Homo sapiens: one gene and its partners. The protein of the gene in region 1 interacts with the protein of each later gene in a pairwise test. Each region holds a gene or a part of one and is shown in the gene's direction. Other genes may lie near its edges.

Evidence for each region.
Region 2: the proteins of NEK1 (region 1) and ZNF350 interact in a two-hybrid assay, tested with the Homo sapiens proteins (one study listed by BioGRID and IntAct).
Region 3: the proteins of NEK1 (region 1) and CTNNAL1 interact in a two-hybrid assay, tested with the Homo sapiens proteins (one study listed by BioGRID and IntAct).

What each region holds. Positions count from the first base shown.
Region 1 is NC_000004.12:169,476,514-169,483,623, reverse strand, and holds part of NEK1 (serine/threonine-protein kinase Nek1), read left to right. Parts: intron 1-4,089; coding exon 4,090-4,221; intron 4,222-5,243; coding exon of another isoform or gene 5,244-5,252; exon of another isoform or gene 5,253-6,100; intron 6,101-6,126; coding exon 6,127-6,192; intron 6,193-6,271; coding exon 6,272-6,500; intron 6,501-7,110. UniProt on the Homo sapiens protein: Phosphorylates serines and threonines, but also appears to possess tyrosine kinase activity. Involved in DNA damage checkpoint control and for proper DNA damage repair.
Region 2 is NC_000019.10:51,976,782-51,983,891, reverse strand, and holds part of ZNF350 (zinc finger protein 350), read left to right. Parts: exon of another isoform or gene 1-113; intron 114-1,860; exon of another isoform or gene 1,861-2,157; intron 2,158-2,524; exon of another isoform or gene 2,525-2,965; intron 2,966-7,110. UniProt on the Homo sapiens protein: Transcriptional repressor. Binds to a specific sequence, 5'-GGGxxxCAGxxxTTT-3', within GADD45 intron 3.
Region 3 is NC_000009.12:109,010,484-109,017,928, reverse strand, and holds the start of CTNNAL1 (alpha-catulin), read left to right. Parts: upstream 1-4,429; 5' UTR 4,430-4,486; coding exon 4,487-4,627; intron 4,628-7,445. UniProt on the Homo sapiens protein: May modulate the Rho pathway signaling by providing a scaffold for the Lbc Rho guanine nucleotide exchange factor (ARHGEF1).

The sequences.
Region 1 (7,110 bases):
AAGTGCTGGGATTACAGGTGTGAGCCACTGCGCCCGGCCTATTTGTAGTAACATCTTAAATATCAGTATACTTTTTCAATAATACTGAACTATGGGACTAAAGCAATGTTTCCATCCTTTTTTGAACAAAATAAATACAGGCATACTTTGTTTTATTGTGCTTCATAAATACTGCATTTTTTACAAATTGAAGGTTTGTGGCAACCCTGCATCAAGCAAGTCTATCAGTGTCATTTTCCCAACAGCTTTTGCTCATTTTGTGTCTTTGTGTCACATTTTTGTAATTCTTGCCATATTTCAAACTTTTTCATTATTGTCATTATATCTTTGATATTACTGTTGTAATTGTTCTGAGGCACCACAGACTTCACCCATATAAGATGGGAAATTTAATTGATGAATGTGTGTGTTCTAATTGCTCCACTGACTGGTAGTTCCCCTGTCTCACTCCTCAGATCTTATTCCCTAAGACAAAATAATATTGAAATTAGGCCACTTAATGACTTACAGTGGCCTCTTAAGTATTCAAGTAAAAGAGTTGCATGTCTGTCACCTGAAATCAAGATTAAGCTTGGTGATGAAGGCATATTGAAAGCTGAGATAGGCACAGAATTAAGCCTCTTGCGCCAGTTATCCAAGTTGTGAATGCAAAGGAAAAGTTCCTGAAGGAAATTAAAAGTGCTACCCCAGACCAGGTGCAGTGGCTCACGCCTGTAATCCCAGCATGTTGGGAGGCCGAGGCAGGTGGATCATGAGATCAGGAGTTTGAGACCAGCCTGGCTAACATAGTGAACCCCATCTCTACTAAAAATACAAAAAATTAGCTGAGCGTGGTGGTGTGTGCCTGTAATCCCAGCTACTCAGGAGGCTGAGGCAGGAGAATCATGTAAATCCAGGAGGGAGGCGGAGGTTTCACTGAGCCATTGCACCCCATTGCACTCCAGCCTGGGCGACAGTACAAGACTCCATCTCAGAAAAAAAAAAAGTTCTACTCCAGTGAACACACATGATAAGAAAGCGAAACAGCCAGGTGCCTGTAGTCTCAGCAACTCGGGAGACTGAGGCACGAGAATTGCTTGAGGCCAGAAGTTTGAGACTAGCATGGATGACATAGTGAGAACCTGTCTCTAAAAAAAAAAAAAGAAAGAAAGAAAGAAAGAAAAATTAGCTGGATGTGGTGGCACACACCTATAGTCCCAACCACATTGAGAAGCTAAGGCAGAATGATCATTTGAGCCTAGGATTTCAAGGTTGCAGTGAGCTATTATTGTGCCTGGATCTGCACTCCAGCCTGGGTGACAGAGCAAGACCCCATCTCTTAGAAAAAAAAGAAAGAAAGAAAGCAAAACAGCCTTCTTGCTGATATGGAGAAAGCTTTAGTGGTCTAGATAGAAGATCAAACCAGCCGCAACATTCTCTTTGGCCAAAGCCTAATCCAGAGCAAGGCCCTAACTCTCCTCAATTCCGTGAAGACTAGGAGAGATAAGGAAGCTACAGAAGAAAAATTGTTGGCTAGCAGAGATTGGTTCATAAGGTTTAAGGAAAGAAGCCACCTCCATAACATGAAAGTGCAAGGTAAAGCAGTAAGTGCTGATGGAGAAACTGCAGTACATTATCCAGGAGATATAGCTAAGATCATTGATAAAGGTGGTAATACTAAACAACAGATTTTCAGTGTAGATAAAACAGCCTTCTATTGGAAGAAGATGCCATCTAGGACTCTCATAACTAAAGAGAAGTCAATACCTGGCTTCAAAGCTAAAGAGAAGTCAATAGCTGGCTTCAAAGCTTCAAAAGACTGGCTGACTCTCTTGTTGGGAGCTAATGCAGCTGGTGACTTTAAGTTGAAGCCAGTGCTCATTTGCCATTCTGAAACTCCTAGGACCCTTAAGAATTATGCTAAATCTATTCTATTTGTGTTCTATAAATGGAACAATAAAGCCTGGATGACTGCACATCTGTTAACAGCACGGTTTGCTGTAAATATTTTAAGCCCACTGTTGAGACCTACTGGTTAGAAAAAAAAAATTATTTCCAAATATTACTACTCATTGACAAGGCACCTAGTTACCCAAGAGCTCTGATGGAGATGTATTATACAAAGAGATTCATGTTGTTTTCATGCCTGCTAACACGACATCCATTCTGCAGCCAATGTATCAAGAAGTCATTTTGACTTTCAGGTCTTCTTATTTAAGAAATACATTTTTTTAAGGCTGTAGCCATAGATAATGGTTCCTCTAATGGATCTGGGCAAAGTAAATTGAAAGCCTTCTAAAAAGTATTCATCATTCATCATTCTAGATGCCATTCAGAACTTTTTTGATTCATGGAGTTAATGTCATGTTAATGTTAATGTCAACATTAACAGGAGTTTGGAAGAAGTTGACTCCATTCTTCAAGATTTCAGTGGAGGAAGTCAGTGTAGATGTGGTAGAAATAGCAAGAGAAGTAGAATGGCAAGGGGAGCCTGAAGATATGACTGAATTGCTACAATCTCATGATAAACTTGAATGGATGAGGAATTGCTTCTTATGGAGGAGCAAATAAAGTGGTTTCTTGAGGTGGAGTCTACGAAGGTGAAGCTGTTTTGAACATTGTTGAAATGATAAGGGATTTAGAATATTTTGTAAACTTAGTCGATAAAGCAACAGCAGGGTTTGAGATGACTGACTCCAGTTTTGAAAGAAGTTCTACTGTGGGTAAAATGCAACAGCATCACATGCTGCAGATAAATATTTTCATGGGCTGGGCACAGTGGCTTACGCTTGTAATCCCAGCACTTTGGGAGACTGAGTCAGGACAGTCATTGAAGCCAGAAGTTCAAGACCAGCCTAGGCAATATAGTGGACCTCATCTTTATTTAAATAATAAAGAATTTTAAAAATATTTTTACAAAATCAAAAGAATATTTTCATGAAAGAGTCAATGGATGCAGCAAACTTCATTTTTGTCTTATTTTAAGAAATTGTCATAGCCACCCCAACATCCAGGAGTCACCACCCTGATCAGTCAGTAGCCATCAGTATCAAGGCAAGACCCTCCACCAGCAAAATAATTACAATTCATTGAAGGCTCAGAAGAATCATTAGCTTTTTTTTTTTTTTTTTTTTAGGAATGAGGTGTTTATTAAGGTGTGTACATTGTTTTTTAGACATAATGCTGTTGCACACTTAATAGGCTACAGAATCGTGTAAACATAAATTTTGTATGCTCTGAGAAACCCCAGAATTTGTGTGACTCACTTTATTGCAATATTACCGTTATTGCAGTGGTCTGGAACCAAGTGCGTAATATCTCAGAGGTATGCCTGTATTGTTGTAAAGTGAAGGTCTAGAAGCCTAAATATTAAGATTGTATTATTACTGTATTTTTAGAAGATACTCAATAAATATTGTGTTTGAAATGTATACTCCCCAGAAAGTCTTGTTTCCTAGATTGAGGAAGACTAGGAATAGGGAGTAGGGAGTAAACTTCCTGCTGTGTTACTATTGTCATACCCATAAATGTCATTTCCTTGTATTAATTCAGGTTTCATAATCTTACTTTGTTTAGAGTTTAAATGGCAACATAAAAACAAGCACATATGTTAATACAACATGATGTTTTCAGTGAAGTAAATCTTATTACCTGGATCTGTTTCTCCTTCCATTCTCATTTATGTTGGCATTTTTATGAGGGCTCTTATGTTGAGTAATTGATATTTGAACTTTGAGAAGATTGTACCCAAACCTGCAGGAATTACAAAAGCATTTCTTTTAGAAGTGTAAGATTAACAAAATCTTACACTTGAATCTTTAAAAGACAGTTTTTCAGGATCATTTCATGAAACATTGATAATGCAATGAAAGCGGGTTATTTAGGACTATGTGACATGACTATGTGTACATCTGAGACCAGAGATTTTTTTCTCTAGTCACTGCTGTATCCCCAGCATGTAGCATCATAATGCCTTGCTCAACAGATAATTCAGGAATGAAAAAAACTACTTGTGGATAGAGTGGATAAATAGTGATCTGGTAGGTACCATTTTATTTCTTCATACAAATATAAAATCCCTAATGTATTTAATAAAATCCTTTTTTATAGTTGGTGGCTAAAGGAGTTAAGAGTTCTGATGTTTCTCCACCTTTGGGACAGCATGAAACAGGTGGCTCTCCATCAAAGCAACAGATGAGATCTGTTATTTCTGTAACTTCAGCTTTGAAAGAAGTTGGCGTGGTAAGTTTCCTAAGATTCAGAACTCCTCAAAGTCAAAAGATTATTTAAAAGGAAATTAAATTTAATGAAATCACATTAATCCCTAATGTCCCTTTCAGGTTTTTCTAAGGAAAAAAATTACTTTTTAAGGGATTTTAGTTTACTCAGAATACTGGAGCCTCATTGTTTATAAGTTTTATATCTAGGACCACGTGGTAGATGAAAATATATCACAATAACTCTTATATTACTTTAAAAGAATATTGAAAAAATAAAATATACAGAGAAATGTACTGAAAATAATACTATAAACATTTTTCTACCCAACCCTCATGATTAACAAATGTTCACTTTAAAAAGAATAATGTCTCTTTGGTGCTAAAGTAGCTCTAGGTATTAGGTCCAACACATATTTACATTTATTCAAATTTTGTGACATGGCAAATGTTAGAGGACTCAGTAGAACTAGTTAATTCATCAGTTATTCCTTTTACCTTCTACTTCTGAATCTCTGTCATGCCCTACAGATAGTAAAACAAAGAAACATAGACAAATAAAAAGCTTAAACTTAGAAGTATATTTCAGGTATCTGTCTGAAGTGTGAAGACTGTTCAGGGGTTAAGAGAAGTGGGCTCATAGTGTGGAGCTGCGGCCTAGAATTCAACAGACAGGAGGAGAAAAGTCTACTGAATCAGATAACATAATAACTTCATTTTCCCCTTTCCTGGTAATGGATGTCTGTGCTTTTTATTTGTTTAGTTTCAGTAAATATTTGCAGACAAAATTGGTACACTAGCTGTTTTTTTTTATAGCCTTTGGGTTGATTTTGAAAATAAAACTCAGTAGGAAAATATAAGTTTCTTGATCATTCTCAAGAACTTCATGTAAGAAACTATTGTTCTTCAAGTAGGCTTAGTCACTTTTTCTTTCTGATAACGACTTTGCGTGTGCCACGTTGTTACTCCAACTTTAGATACCACTGTGTGGTCCCTCCTTGGTACCCAGTCTCACATCTCAATAGCTGTTCATCTCTCTGGTTGTAGGACTGCTAATTCCTGACTACTTTACTGGGTAAAATGTTCTTTGTCTCATTGCTTCATATATTACTTTGAAACTGACCACCAAATTTTTAATTTTTTTTAAGTATTACAAAATTCGAGGTAATCCATATAACTGAACGGTTTTCTTTCTGTGTTGTGTTGGTAAATGTCACTTACTTAAAACTTAGAAAATTGTTCTTTGAATCTTCTACATGCCTTTGCTTTCATAGCTTTCGTAACTGCTAATTTCTTCTTTTCGTATGTTTTTTAATTTTAGATAGTCTGGATTGCTTTGACAATGCTAATTAGGAGATAACATTTATGTCATTTGTAGTACAAATGACTCAGAACTAATTTTTGTTACACTCTTTGTTTAGGGAGGAAAGCCACTTCTCAATTACATTTAGTACTATGGCTTAACAAGGATATATATACATGAAACATAAAGACAGTTTTAGAATAACACAGCCTATTTTGAATTACTTCATCTATCAAAACTTTTTCTAGTTATAATTAAGAGAGTATATGAATTTTCCTCTAATTTCTACTTTTTCCTCTAATTTCTACTTTTTCCTCTAATTTTCTGACTTAAATTACCAAAAAATCAGGTACCAAAGAGGAAGAGGATATAGTTAATTATGTGAGCAGTAATCTAAAAATATGACAAATAATTGAGAATTGGCCCCTGTCTATGTTGTCTAATTAATAATATTTAAAGGTTAGTCATTGCTGATAATGAAGGAAGCTTTGTTAACATTTTATAGGAATAAAAAATTTACAAGGAACAAATTAATGAAAACCAAAAAGTAACGAGGATGTAATATTTTTAAAGGTAGATTTAAAAAAATAAAATTATCTCTTCCTCTGTATCTATCTGCATTTAAAGGACAGTAGTTTAACTGATACCCGGGAAACTTCAGAAGAGATGCAAAAGACCAACAATGCTATTTCAGTAAGTAAAATTTTCAAAGTTTATCAATCATTTTACTTAATGATATACATATTAAAATATATAATGTCGTGACTTTCAGAGTAAGCGAGAAATACTTCGTAGATTAAATGAAAATCTTAAAGCTCAAGAAGATGAAAAAGGAAAGCAGAATCTCTCTGATACTTTTGAGATAAATGTTCATGAAGATGCCAAAGAGCATGAAAAAGAAAAATCAGTTTCATCTGATCGCAAGAAGTGGGAGGCAGGAGGTCAACTTGTGATTCCTCTGGATGAGTTAACACTAGATACATCCTTCTCTACAACTGAAAGTATGTATAGTAGTATATTAATATCCTATTTAGGTCTAGTACATATGTAAACTTATAGACTAACCACTCTGAAAAAAATGAACACTTAGAAGAATTGAGAGAAGCTGAAAGAATTCTATATATTTTCCTTTTGGGCGAATAGAAGTGCCTCCCTCTCACAGTGAAATGTGAAGAGCAGAGAAAACTAATCAAACTAATCAGCCTTAATAGCAAGGATTTTTATTACAAAAGTGTATAGTGTGAGAGAGGGAACTAATGATACATATTTAAATTGCATTACTTTAACTCTGTATACCATGTTAAATTAATCTGTTACTATGAATAATTCTTGATGAGAACCAGGGTAGTGTCTCAGAAACATCTCTTAGGCATTTAGCGAGAGTATTGAGAAAATCTGACTTAATGATTTATATATTCGGTGATAATTACTGAGAATCTATATTTCTTACATTGTTCTAGGAATTGGAGATATAGGAACAAAACAGAAACATATGTGCTCTTGTGGAGCTTACATTCTAGAAGGGCAAGTCTGACCATCAACAAATCTGATTTTAAGTAATTTTTTTCACAGACTGTTTTTGTAGAATTTTTTCTTGCATTGGAAAAAAGC
Region 2 (7,110 bases), on another chromosome or scaffold:
AGACTGAGAAAAGAAATCAGACACAGAGAGAAAGTACAGAGGAAGAAAAGTGGGCCCAGGGGACTGGTGTTCAGCATATGGGGGACCCACACCGGCACTGGTCTCTGAGTTTTGTTAGTATTTATTGATTACTATTTTTACCATCTTGGTGAGGGGGGTGTGGCAGGACTATAGGGTAATGGTGGGGAGAGGGTCAGTAGGAAAACATGTGAGTAAAGGACTCTGTGTTATAAATAAGTTTAAGGAAAGGTCCTGTGCCTTGATGTGTACGTAGGCCAGATTTATGTTTGACTTTACACAGACATCTTAGTGTAGTAAAGAGTAGTATTGCCGCCAGTATGTCTCACCTTTAGTTATAAGGTGGTTTTCTCCTATCTTAGTAAATAGAATGTATGATTGGGTTTTATACCGGGACATTCCATTCCCAGGGAGGAGCAGGAGACAGATGGCTTTCTCTTATTTTAACTGTAAAGAGGTCTTCCTCTTTCACTAATCCTCCTCAGCACAGACCCTTTACGAGTGTTGGGCTGGGAGATGGTCAGGTTTTTCCCTTCCCACGAGACCATATCTCAGGCTGTATCAGTGGGAGGAAACCTTGGACAATACCCAGGCTTTCTTGGGCAGAGGTCCCTGCGGCCTTCCGCAGTGCATTGTGTCCCTGGGTACTTGAGACTGGAGAATGGTGATGACTTTTACCAAGCATACTGCCTGCAAACACATTTTAACAAAGCACGTCCTGCACAGCCCTAAATCCATTAAACCTTGAGCCAACACAGCACACGTTTCTGAGCACAGGGTTGGGGCTAGGGTTACAGATTAACAGTATCTCAAGACAGAGGAACTTTTCTTTGTACAGATTAAAATGGAGTTTCTTATGTCTTCCTCTTTCTATATAGACACAGTAACAGTCTGATCTCTCTTTCCCCCACACCTTCCTCAGCTTCCCAAAGTGCTAGGATTACAGGCGTGAGCCACGGCGCCCTTAGTTCCATTTATTGAAAAGACAGCTTTTATCTACTTCCCTGTAGTGCTATCATTGCCATTGAGTCTCTATATGTGCTTAATTCTGCTTATAAGGATTTTATTCTGTTCCTTTGTCCTATTTGCCTGTTATTGTACTAATATTGTGCTGTCCTAATTAAAGTAGCTTTATAAGTCCTCATAACTGATATGGCAAGTCTTCTAACTTTTTTTTCAAACTTTAAAAAAAAGTTTATAGCTATTTAAACTTTTCAGTATCAGTTTGGGATTGTGACTGTGATTTCATTGAATCTGTAGATTTGGGAGACTTGACATTTTTAAAATGCTTTGTTTTCCAGCCCATCTTTATAGTACATCTTTGCATTTATTTAAAACTGTTAAAATTTATCTCAGTAAATCTAATTTTAAAAATATATTCGAGTTCTTCTAAATGATATCGTTTATGTCAGCCTAAAAGAGGAAACTGCACAAAATACAATTTTAAAGAGTTTACTTGAGCCAAAATGAGGACAGCTGCCTGGGAAAATACTTTCAGGTTGCCTTGGTTAAGTGCTCTGTTAGGATTTTGTTAGAAACAGGTTTTAAAGTCAAAAGGGAACAAACCGTGAGCTGACATAAAGTTGTTTGGCAAGAATTCTCATTGGTTTACAGAAATAATATCAATTAACAATTGGCTGTACATTGTTAACTATGGGGTTTTATGAGTTAGGATGTCCAGTGAATGGCATTTTATGGCTACTCAGTGTGAGTTAGTCTAGAGCCTACATAGCAAGTGGCTTTAAGAGATAATTATTTAGCTTGAGGGGGAAATGAGATGTGACTATTGTCACATTAAATTTTTTTTTTAGTTTTTAATTTTTTCTTTTTTCTTTTTTTCAGGGGAACCCCTATCAGAAAGACTGCTGTCACATTTTAATGCCTCTCTAGACCTGATAATTTAAAGGGAGTCACATTCCTCAGATAAAAGATTCATTTCTTTCTCATTTATAAATTTTATTTTGTTTGTTGATGGTCTGTTCTGTCAGTTACTAGGAAAGGTCTGTTAAAGTCTTTAGTCTGAATTTTCTATTTCTTGTTTTTGGTTCTATTTTTTGCTGTATACATTTCAAGACTGTTGTTAGGGGTATACATATGGTGTATTTCTATGAATGAAGAGCCAAATTTCACCTCTTTTCAGTGAGCATTGTTTCTCTTTCTCTCTGTTAATTCTTTAGGATTTCTGGTCAGTTTTGTCTGAGATATAGTTATAACAGATTATCTTTGGTTACTCTCTCTGTGGCATATTGTCTCCAACCTTTTATTCTCAAGCTTCCCATATCATTTTGGTTCAGACATATCAACTATAATAACCGCATGTGGGGAGGCTGAGGCGGGTGTGTGATGAGATCCGGAGTTGAAGGCCAGCCTGACCAAGATGCTGAAATCCGATCTCTACTAAAAATACAAAAATCAGCCAGGCGCGGTGGCGGGCCGTAACCCACATGGACCCATGGGACTGCACAAATGGGGGTGAACGTGGGAATAAAGACAGGAGACAAAAGAGTATATTTGGGAGAAGGGGTCAGGGAGCACCTTACCTCTAGTGGACAAGGGCCCTGAGCTTTACACAGCCCTCCGTATTTATTAGGCAAAAGAGATAGGAGGGTGGGGGGGTGGAAGAAGGGGTCGGCTGCTCAGTTCAGAGTAGGCTTGCAAGACTGCATTCTCTAGATGTCGCAGTAGATAACCTCGGTGCCAGGGAGTGATTGCCTCCAGCAAACCTTATGTTGGCAGGAGCAGTCCTGAGTTTGCTCACATCCTGTATTCATGATAAACAGTTTGCTGTTTGATCATATAGCCTCCAGCAGAATGCTGAGTTGGTCACGTCCCACAGGCCTTTGGCTCCCTGCATATCCCCCTTTCTGTTTATGTATTAATTGAAAGAATGTAAGGCTGGGCTGGGAGGCTCTCATTCTCCAATTGGTGGTCCATCCGATTTTACAGACTATAAACCGAAGACAGAGACAAAACAACATTATTCCAAGAACTACATATAAGATGTTAATGTGGTGCCTTAGATAGGTCCAAGGGTTGAGGCTCTCCAGGCCTTCCTGGAATTCGGTCCAGTCTTCTAAAGAAGGCTGAAATTCTTGAGTTTGCCTATTTAAATCAATAATTTTGTTTTGTAATTCACCAATATCAAAGGTGATGTTGGATGTGAAAGCTCCTTGCAAATGGGCTTTCACAAGGTCCCACGGATACTCACTTTGGTTATATTCTGAGTTAGTTACGCAAATATGAATGTGATTAAAATGATGACGCAATTGCTGCTGCAACTGCAAGCTTTGTACCTGTTCTCCTAACCACAGAACCATGGATTTCAACATTGCCACTTCAGTTTGTAACTCAGTGTTAATTTTATTCTGAAGTAGCCTCGCTTGGTCAGCTGTGCGTGTCCAGTTCTCCACCTACTGAGATGTTTGAATAGAATTATGCAGAGTTACAGAAGATATCACAACAGAAGTTATTAGTTTGACCAAGGAAACAATAGCAAAAATTATGCCTAAGGCTCTATGGACACAGTGAGTAAGCTGAGTTAGAAGAAGTGTTACAAAAATGCAAAGCAGGTGTGGCAGCCCAAGGCTCAGACAGATTAACAAGAATCCATAGCCCAGGGATGCAACCCAACATTATCAAAGTAGAGATATTATGTGTTCGTAATGTGCTATGATTAATGCAGTGTGATATAACTGGCAAGATTTACAGGTCAATTGGGTATTGTTTACCTGAAGCTGGTTCTTCTTAGCTGCCAAAAAGGCATAAGGATTAAAAACACAAACTGTAAACTGAGTGGTGATATTCTTTACAAATGCAACATTAAGACTGTGTTGCTTACTATTGCTATTATTAGACAGTGTTCCAATCCAGATGTTGCCATTCATAAATGGGAGTGCTGCCTTCCATATAGTTTCTTGAATTGGTCCTTTCCTCCCCAGATAATGCAACTGAGGAAGAGGTGGGCTAAAGCCTGCTCCATGCCAAGCAATCTGAGCAGCAGACTGGGATTGGATTCTGCTGTTGTATAAAGAAGAAGCATTAAAAGCTTGCCGCCAATGCCAGTGAAGTTTGTGCCATGATTTCTGACTTTCACCTTTTCCATCTAATTGACCTTTAGGTTCCCAATCCACAGTGTCTTCAGTTGACATATATTGTTTACTAGCCAGTGGATCAAGACACTGGGTCCACAGAGTGGGGTAGGAACTATTGAATGGAATCCATTCTGTATAATCAGCACAATTAGGGTGACTGGACTGGGAATGATTGGTTAGCACACCAGTTACATTAATAGAACCAAGACCTAATAAGTACATAATTTTTCCATAGTGACTCAACCATGTTTGAGCTTGAATTGCAAGACAGCTATGGCTGAGCGACGTCTTTGTGGTGATAAACAAAGGGAGTCCTTCCAGTGGAGTGGTATAATTAATGACATTGTTCTGAGAGTCTAACTTTTCTATGTCACGGGGAGTTAGGGGTCCTGGAGCCCACTCTCCCTGATCGTGATAAATCTCAGGAGGAGTGAGCTCCAAAGTATAGGCCATACTGCTGGGGGATTGGGAACATATGCCCAATATGTTTTTGCCTGTGCACAGGGAAAACGTAGTGCACAGGACATTATGGCTAACATGGCCAAGAGCATGGAATCAGGGGTTTTGCCTGTCCCTGACACTCCAGTAGTTTCTCAGCTTCCTGTGTGGTTTTCTTGAGTTGTCCCCAGGTTATGGGGGTTGATGTCATCATGACTCTGGTTGGCCTTCTCTCCATCTTTGCACTCAGGCTCAGCTGACTCATAGCTCGTACAGGAGGGACTGGGCCCATGGTTGGCCACCCTGGGTTCCTCCAGTCTCCCATTCCATGGTCGCATGCACCTTGAGGGCACCCACATGGCTTGTCCCATCTCCTGTAAACACACAAGCATACCCTCTTCCCCAGGTCAGTAAATCTACCGGGCCTTTCCATTGTTGTCCTTCTGGGGATTTCCATAACACTTTCAGATAAACTTTGCTTTTTTCCTCTAACACTTGCCAATGTCTTTCTGCTGGAGTCTTACCATCCATACCGGGAGTCAGAAAATTTAAAGTAAATAAGGCTAAATGTAGTTTTGATTGAGGTGGTAGTTGGCCTCCTATACCCCCTTTTTGTTTTTTCAACATGCGTTGTAATGTTTGATGTGCCCATCCTATAGATATGACTGACACATCAGCTCCCATGTCCATAAGCCCATAAAATTTCTTTCCTTTAATGTGTACTACACAGGTAGGTCTATTAGAGGCTATGGGTTGGGAAAGATAGATTTCCCATGTAGTTGTGCTCCCAAACCCTTTATTTCCTCATTTCTCTTTTCATGGGGAAGGGTGTAATTCACAGGGAATAAGCAATAATTGAGCAATATATTCTCCCAGTTCAAAAACCCAAAGATTTTGTGACATTAAAACTACTTGAATTTCTCCTTCATAATCGGAGTCAGTCATTCCTAGGACTACAGTGATGCCTTGCAAGTTAAGGCAGCTTTTACCTAAAATTAGTCCTGTGTATCCTGTCGGTAAAGGTCCCCAAATACCCAAATAGGTTTGTCTCCCCTAACTAATGTGATTCTTTCTCTGGTGGGTAGATCTAATCCTGCACTTCCTGGTGTTCCTGGGTTGAGGGAATCAATGTGCCTCCAGGAACCCATCCCTGAAGTGGGGTTGTGGTCTGCATTGGGAATGCCCTCATTGTTTGAGGGGCCCGGGTGCAGGCCCCCATCTCATTTACCAATGGGGTGCCATTCTGATGAAATTTTGAGCAGCACTGGGTAGCCCAGTGATTTCCTTTGTTATGGCGAGTACAGAGTCCTGCTGTTTTTTCTGCTAGGGAGTGAACTGCATTGTAATATCCTTTCTGTCCTGAGATCTGGCGGCATTCCTTTTTTAGATGTCCAGTTTTTCCACAATTACAACATTTTCCCACTTTAGGGTTTGACCCTTGGCTCCTTTTAGATTTGTCAACTGCTAAATTAGCCATTGCTTATGCTAACTTTGCAGATCGATGAATCTCAGTTCCTACATCCTGACAAGCTCTGAGAAAATTTCCCAAGTTTTTTGTACACCTCACTGGTGCCAGTGCACGTTTACAGTACACGTTTGCATTCTCAAAAGCTAAAGTTAAGGTTAGCATTTCTGCAGCCACAGTATGAGGAATCTGACGCTTCAGTGCCTCATGTAATCTTGCAAGAAATTGTGCATAGGGTTCCTGCAACCCTTGCATGATATGTAAAAAGGATTGTACAGGGACTCCCTCTTCAGGATTGTGGCCCAGGCGCATTTAGCGGCCTGTGTACACTGCTGATAAGCAGCATCTGGGAGTGCCATTTGACGTTCTACATCTGAATAAGGGCCATGACCTAACAGCATATCCTCTGTAATGTCTCCGTGTCCAGCAGCATGGTTCTGTTTAGCCTGGTCTGCACACATTTCTTGCCAATTTAAATTCCATGTCAGATATGCACTAGCAGACAAGCAAGTTCGCGCCAAGTGTCTCACATCAAAGGGTAAAAAACGCATAGCACCAAACACAGATTCTAGCAATCCTAAGGTGAATGGGCTCTGTATGCCATCATTTACCACTCTTGCTTTTAATTCCTTCAACAACTTAAACTCTAGTGGGGTGTGTTCATGAATAACCTGCTGTGGATTTTTTGGATCAGGCCTGATGGAAATAGGAAAAGCACAATGTCCTAAGGGCTCTCCAGCTATGGCAGCAGAGCATTAAATTCTTTGTATTAGGGTTTCTATTTCTGCCACCGAAGGAGGCAGTACAGATGTTTCTGCAACTGAAGGAGGCAGTATAGGCCAATTTTTATCCTCCCTCTCCTGTTTTTTATTTTTAATTGGAGCTGTGGGTGGGTCAACAAATTCTTTCAGATTTTTAGATTCAGCTTGCTGTCCTGCAGAATAATAATGAGATAATGGCAGAAGTACAGTACGAACTAAACTCCAAGTGGAGAAAACAGAAGAATCGACTTTAAGACCTTTTTGATGAGCCTGTTTTAATCCTTCTCCTGCTGTATCCCAATTTTCCACATCAAGAGTGCCTGCCTGTGGAAACGAT
Region 3 (7,445 bases), on another chromosome or scaffold:
AAGGACTAGGAAGGTCCACTAGCTGGGGAGGTCTTGGAACCCTCCGAGCCAGAAAGAAGCATTCCAGCATGATTCCTCAGATGCAATGAGGAAGGTTTACAGAATTTTCACAGGGCAACAGAGATCAAGTGGTATGAAAAGGTAGGAGTTTTAAGCTCAAGTCTCAAAGATAACCTACCTTTACATTCTCAGTCAGAATTTGACCCAGAAAGAGGAAGTTTCTTCAGGAACAGACCGTACGTTGATGAAGTAGAAGTCATTTCAGTAAAAACGGAGTACAGAACTTGGTCATAATATCTTGCATTTTATAGATTTATTAAAGATTAGTTTCAAGTTCACATTCGCTATTCAGTTGTAAACCGAATGGATGGGAGGGGAGAAAATACAAGCTCTCCACACAGGTATGCTCCTCTCTTTTCTGAGAGAGAAGGCATGGGATTTTCAGCATAAATTCCATGTTATGTGAGTGCTGTTTGAGTTCTGAAGTTCCTATCAATATCTGTTCCTGCAAGTGATCTCTGTAAGACCACCTTACATGCTGGTCTTAGTTATTGTTAAAATTGCAAGGTTTCTTCACACCCTCTTTGATAAGAAGTGTTTAGCTGGCAGAGCTTTCCCTTGACTTCTGAGTCTAGTGTGGGTTGGCCCATGACAGTGGGAAGAAATCCAACATGTTACATGGAGACCTTGTATGTAAACAAACTCTGTAGCCTTTGAAAGTGGAACTGCTTTTTACAGTTAAAGGGCTGCTAAATGGCTTGCAGATGAGATCTTCTGGCTCACCTTGATCTTCACATGAACCCATTGTGACCTATCTGGATTTCCTAGGACCTGTAGTTTCCATTTGGGTTATATTAGTGCCTCAGGAATGTGTCACTACTGGTCAAGCAATACTCAGAAATTCAGGCTGTGAGGGGTTAGATTAGAGGAAAGTAATTTAGGTGAGCTATCCAGAGCTTTCAACCTCAGGGTTTATAGGAAAAAAAAACAAAATACAAAAACCCTTAGGACTTCTCATACTCTAGCCCTGACCTTGCAGTCTCCTCTGAGGGGCCTCCTAAGACCCTTAAAATAATATTACAATAGGACTTTGAGTGTGCATTTCACAGTGGAAATAGCCTCTGGCTAGCATTACTTCCAAATGCTAGTTCCAGCTAAAAACAAGTACTTTTTATTAGTTTCTTGTCTTTCAACATTCTGCCATCAAAATATATTCATTTTATTAACTTACCGATTATTGGGAACCTGCAAAAAAAAAAAAAAAAAAAAACACACATGCTGTCTGCAGCCACTGTTTGGTTATTTTTGATAGTTTAAGAGAATTATAAATCAAGTTGTTCTGTCTACTAGAGTCAGAAATTCTGTGCTAGAATGGGACTTCTAAAATTAGGTGGTCCTGTCACTTTCTAGAGAAAGACCCAAATTCATAGGTTTAAGTGGCTTGTCTGACATACACATACAGCCAGTTAGTAACAGAATTCAGAATAGAATAGAGTTCTTTTTTTTCTGTCAGTCCGTTGTTCTACTTCTCTTTCCTTTTCTTCATGGTTGAGCAGCTTTTGGCAAAATGTGTTCCATATAGCAGTAGTTCCAAGAGATGTTAATAGATGTAAGAAAAAAAGTGTGTGTGTGTTGGGGGTGGGGGATTGCATGGTCAATTAAAATGAAGGAATGCTGAGTTTGTTTCCTTACTGTAGGACTTCTAAGAGTTTTGAACATGCTATTACACATTGTGAATTTATAAAAGGGGACAAACACTGTTTGACCTTAGACTGCACTCCCCTTCTTTATTCCTCAGAGCATCTCAAAGGACTACAGGGTCCTTTGAGAAACATGGCCCTTGATCAAGTTTACAACTCTTTGAGAAGACATCCCTAATGGAAATACTGAATGGCAGATCTATTACTGTGGTACCATGTAGTGTGTAATAAATCTTGAAGTCCAGAAAGCAAGTATATTTGCTGTTTAGAGCTATACTTAAGGTATAGAGATTCTTTTCCACCTGTGGTGTGTAAAATCAGTATTGTGTTTAATTTTGCAGGTTTTTCAAGGATCAACTAATGTGCAAATACAGTGGTGATATATTGATATTACATTTTAATAATGCTTTTGTATGGCACTTTATAGTTTTCAGACACCTTTTGTAACAGCCCTGTGAGACAGACAATATTATCCTTATTGTACAGATGGGGGGGCTCTGGAGGCTCTGAAAAGTTTTTGGTGATATTCCCCTAAGTTTATACCACAAAATGATGGAGCCAGAATTTAGTTGCAGAACTTCTGACTCCAAGTCCAGAGTTCTTTACTAGACATCTGGTTTCTTACTAGCTTTTTGCTAGCTTTTTATTTTACAGTGAAAAGTATGGAAGCAAATCCTGATAATTTTGGCTTATTATCAAATATCATTTATTTTTTATTGCAGAGACCCAGCAGATGTAACTCTCATTGTAGCCATCCCAAAGAAAACCCTTCTTTGCCCTTTGCAGTGCCACTTATTTAGGTAACTGAAGTGTATTTCCAGTACAATTTGATTTTGAACTAAGATTTGATATAGAGTTGTAATTGCTTACATAACTCTTTGAAAATGTATCATCCCTGGGTTCTCAGGTGAAGGAGGCAATTCAAAAGTAAAAAAGAATATTCGAATACAATAAATACCCTCTGTTCTCACACAAATGCTGTTTCTTAGCTAACTTGCTTTGACAACCTACTGATGTAACTTCTTTATTAATGTGAAATATTTATATTTTGAAATAAAATTACTAGTGTTGAATGAATCATGTGGTAAACTTAATCTCCTGTGTGTTGAAAAACTTGATCTTTTGTGAAGCCAAAGTTTCATGAATCCATCCGTCTCTTAGGCCTTCTGTTATGCCATTTCCTCCGGCACCATTGTGTACACTGAATTCTTAGGAGATACTGTCAACTTCGTAAGGGAAGGTGTGTCCAGGAAGTGGACACTGGGCGCCTTAAAGAGGTCAAGGGCCCTCAGTGCACAGGGGAAGGTGGCCTTGTGATAGGTAAGGAAGTGGTGAGATGGTTGGCTGAGAAGAATTGGAAGAAAAAGTTGGATTGAGGACCTGTCCTTTTTGAATGAAGAAAAAGAAGCTGAAGCTTGGCTATCTTCAATACCAAAGACAGCTGTGCAGCACTGGTAGATTGATGAAGCTGAAGCTACAGGTTGAAGCACTGTGAAGCGCCTTTCAACGGTGCTTGGGAAAGAGCTTTCTTATGCCTCAGGTTGATGTACCCAGCTCATCAATCTGGTGTTATGGAAGAAGAAATGATCCAGGCCAAGGTGTCCGGGTGGACTGGCCAGCCTCAGATTCTTTTTTACTCTGACAGGTTCTCACTGGCAGATATGGTAGTTGACAAAACATTTTTTCATGCTTCTCAGTCTGTTGCTTAAGTCTGGAATTCCTTCACGGCGTGCATACTGCTGACAACCTCCTTTTGGCCTTGCTCCTGGAGACCTTAGAATAGGAGTCTTCAGCTCCCCGCCCCCATCGTGGGGCTCTGTGCGAGCTCAGAGTTGTGCTTACAGAACTGATTCTTACCCTTCCCCTCAAGTGAGTTGTCAGAAATACACACTTGGTGTTTTCATGCAATGAACAGTTATGAAGAAACTGCTCTGTGCCTGGCACTAGGAAAAAACTTCGAAAAATAGTTTTAAGAAGTAGTGTTGAACAGTAGATGAGGCTTTTTCATGTTTCTTTTAAATTTCTTTTGAATAAGTCTAAACAGTAGTGTGAAAGATATACTGACTTCCTGCCGAATACCCAGATACTCCATTAATGATTGCATTATCAAATGTTTCCCCTTCAATCCAGCTCAAAGTGTTTGTGAGAAATACATGGTGAAAGAATGAGCAGGGTGGAGTGGAAATTGGACCTTCCGGAGAAGCCCCAGGAAGACATTACCACTGGAATTCCCGTCCCAGGGGAAAGGCCCCTCCCAACAGACTTGATTCTGGTTTTGGTCTACCAGTTTCAACCCCAGCACAGCTTCCAGAAGTCTTTGCGGGAATTCAGAGCTGATTTAGGACGAGTCACCTATCGAGAGGACGGGAAGCTTTGCTGGGGACGCTTGTCTGTCCAAGTAAGAGGAGGCCATGTGGCTGTGTGACAGATGTGTTTTGTTTCTCCTCGCCACCCTGGCGAGAAGGTGCCTGGAACCCATGGAAGGGGTCTGAGAAGAGATAAGGGCGGGGCCATGTGGGGGCGGGACCCGGCTTAGGGGGTGGGGTTGCAGGGAGCCCACACCAGGCTGGACTGCGCGGGCGGGGCAGAGGCCGGGGGTGGGCGGGGACATACGGTGACGGGCGTCGGGGACGCAGGGTTGGCGGCGGAGCCCTGGGGGGGCGGGCCCCTGGGGGCGGGGTCTCGGTTGGCGCGAGTGTCCTGTCGCCGCCGCCTCGGGCGGGTGGGCTGACTGGCGGCAGGCTCGCCGCGGCGCGGAGTCCCGGCTGCGGGATAGACCGAGGGCCATGGCCGCCTCTCCCGGACCCGCCGGCGTTGGCGGCGCCGGAGCAGTCTACGGCTCCGGCTCTTCGGGCTTCGCCCTCGACTCGGGACTGGAGATCAAAACTCGCTCGGTGGAGCAGACGCTACTCCCGCTGGTTTCTCAGGTAAAGTGGCGCCTGGCGCGGCCCCTCTTCTCCTTCCCGCCGCGGCCCGCGATGGCGGCCGCCGCTCGCACGACCGGACGGGAGGCAGCCGCTGCCCCACTTTCCGCGCCGGCACTGCGGCGTTCTTGTCGGACCGCCTGTGTGGGGCTCCGGGACGGGCCTCGGCCCGGGCGGCGAGAGACTGGATAATCCAAACTCCGGCGGCAGGGTTGAGTGGACTCGGCAGCAGGGGAGGCTGCGGGGCGGGGGTGCCGGCCTGGGCCTTTGCCCCCAGTACCTGCCTCGGGTCTGCGGCTCCCGGGTGCCCCCGGCCGGGCGATGCCCCCTCCGCGGGGCGAGTGGTTGAGCCCAGCTCCCGAGGCAGAGAGGACCCCCGCGGGGCCCCTCGCTGGTACTTAGGGCCCTCCACGATAACCGACTTTGTCACCAGTTCGCAGCCTGGTCCCGAGCCCGGCTCCTCCGCCTGGGGTATTCCTCCCGGCCTCCCCGCCCAGCGTGCGCTCCCTGATCCTTTGTCCCTCCCCGCCGTAGGTCAGTTCGCTGGCCTCCCATTCATCCCGGCCACCCTACCCCTTCCCCTGAACCTGCTGCTGCTCACTTCTGCCCGCTTCTGTCCGGCCTCGTGGAAGAGTGACGTGGAGACTGTATGACAGTTAATCCAGATGCACACCGTTTTGCCAAGTCCCGTTTGGGATGTGTGCGTTACTGTATTTGCCAATCAGCTAACCGACGCCCTGAGTTTTAGGAAAGTTTTTGTTTCTCTGAGCTGGGTTATATGCAGCTTCAGGGCTAGAATTCCTCACTTAGGTCTGTGGTAAGATGCCAAGCACTGTGGGGAGTGAATTCTGTGCCTTCGGGAGCGCGTTGGCGATGTGTGACTCACATCTAGGTTGTAACCACTTCGTGACTCATACTAGGATTACCAAGATTTTAGAGGTAGAAGAAATCTTAAAGATTATCTGACTAAAAATTCTTTCTTTAGCATCCTTGACACCTGGCCACCAGTACCCTGCTTAAACATGTTCAGTGAAGGGGAGCCTGTAGCTGTTGCATAGAATTCTAAATGCTATTATCTCTTCTCCTGCCCAGCCCTGCGCATATTTGAAAACAGCAGTTACACATGTCCCTGGATTCCTGTTATGCTGGTTAAATAAACATCCCTATTTTCTTCACCTTCGCATGGCTAACGGAGCAGTGATGAATATATCTGACACTCTCCTTCCCTTTTCCTGTGTCTCATTGAGGCTCTGACCAGTGGGAAGGGGCACTGGGATCCCTCAGTAATGTCAGACCCTCCGCTCCTCGCCTATCTCCACTAGCACAACACAACCAAAACGAGAAACACTGGAGCAGTTTTAAGAGGCAGAGAGATAAGAGAGTGATGGAGTTCAAGTTGATAGTATTTTATCCATTTTTTAAATAACACCTATGTAATGCTTACTATGTGGTAGGCCAGGTTCTAAGCACTTTGTAAATATTAACTCATTAATTCTCATAACAATCATGTGAAGTTGGTATATATTCTCGTGGTATGGGAGAGGAAACTGAGGAATACTGAGGTTAAATAATTTGTTGTTAGGGCTTTCAATAAGTGCCAAACTGGGATTTGAATCCAGGTACCCTGGCTCCAGAAGGTTCTCTTTGCTACACTATGCTGTGTCCTCTCTAGAGATTAGAAGCAGTAATGAGATCTAGAGAAAAAGATGGTACATAGTGGAAAAACAAGCTAGAAAGTCATAATCTGGAGAAATGGCAACTTTTCACAGTATCCACTGCTAAAAATGTATCAGTCTTACAGCTCTGCATTGTGTAACTCTGGGGTAAAAGAAGCCAGAGAAGGGTAGGAGAGCAGAGGAAGAAAAGTATAAATCACTGCTGAGAGTTAGAGGTCAATGCCAAAGGGGAAGAATGCCTGCCTTTTTTTTTTTTTCTTTTTCCAGTTAAAGCCTTGTTCAGGGTCACAGCTGAGGTTTTGCATCCCACACATTGTGTATCTACAGCTACATCTCTACCACAACACCATAACTGATATTCCTCATAATTGACTGTCCTTAACAAGAAAAAGTTAAAATCAAGAAGTGTATTAAGCATGGCCAGAATACTCGGTTAACAAAGCAGGGAAGTACAATTTAGAATGATTTTAAAGTTTCAGTGTTAGGAGATTAAAACAGCAGTTCTCCAGAAAACTCATATGTCCACAAGTCTCATTTTCTGAGAATGCTGTATTATTACCCAACTCATGTTTCACCATCTCATCCACAAGGATATTTTAAGCATTTTAAGCAAGGATTTATTGTGTGCTTATTTGTTGCTGTTTTTTGAGGGGCTTATATTCTAGTTGGTAGATAGGTCATGTATAGAACAGCACATGCAAAGTGTCAAATGAACATCATCAATGGTACATACTCTAAAAGCTCAGAGAAGGCATGGATGAGTCAGCAGTGATGTCATGGAGGAGGCAGGGTTTTGAGGTAAACAAGTAGGACTGGCACTATACGGTTTAAAGTAGACAGTTTCTATTCTGGTATCATCTAGCTTCTTCTGACTCTCCAAGTGAAAAGTCCTGGGTTACTGGCCTTATTCTAAGAATGCAAGATTTTATCAATATTAGAAAAATGTGTATAGTTTTTTTTGCATTCACAGATTATAAAAGATGTATTTTCCTAACAATGATGCAGAAAAAGCATTCAACTAAATTCAGCTTCTAATAATGATAAGAAGCACTTAGGGAACTAGTGTTAGGAAAAAGTGTCCTTAACCTGATAGAGTATCTACAGAAAACTTTTACTTAACATCATAGCAACAGTCAAATTTAAAA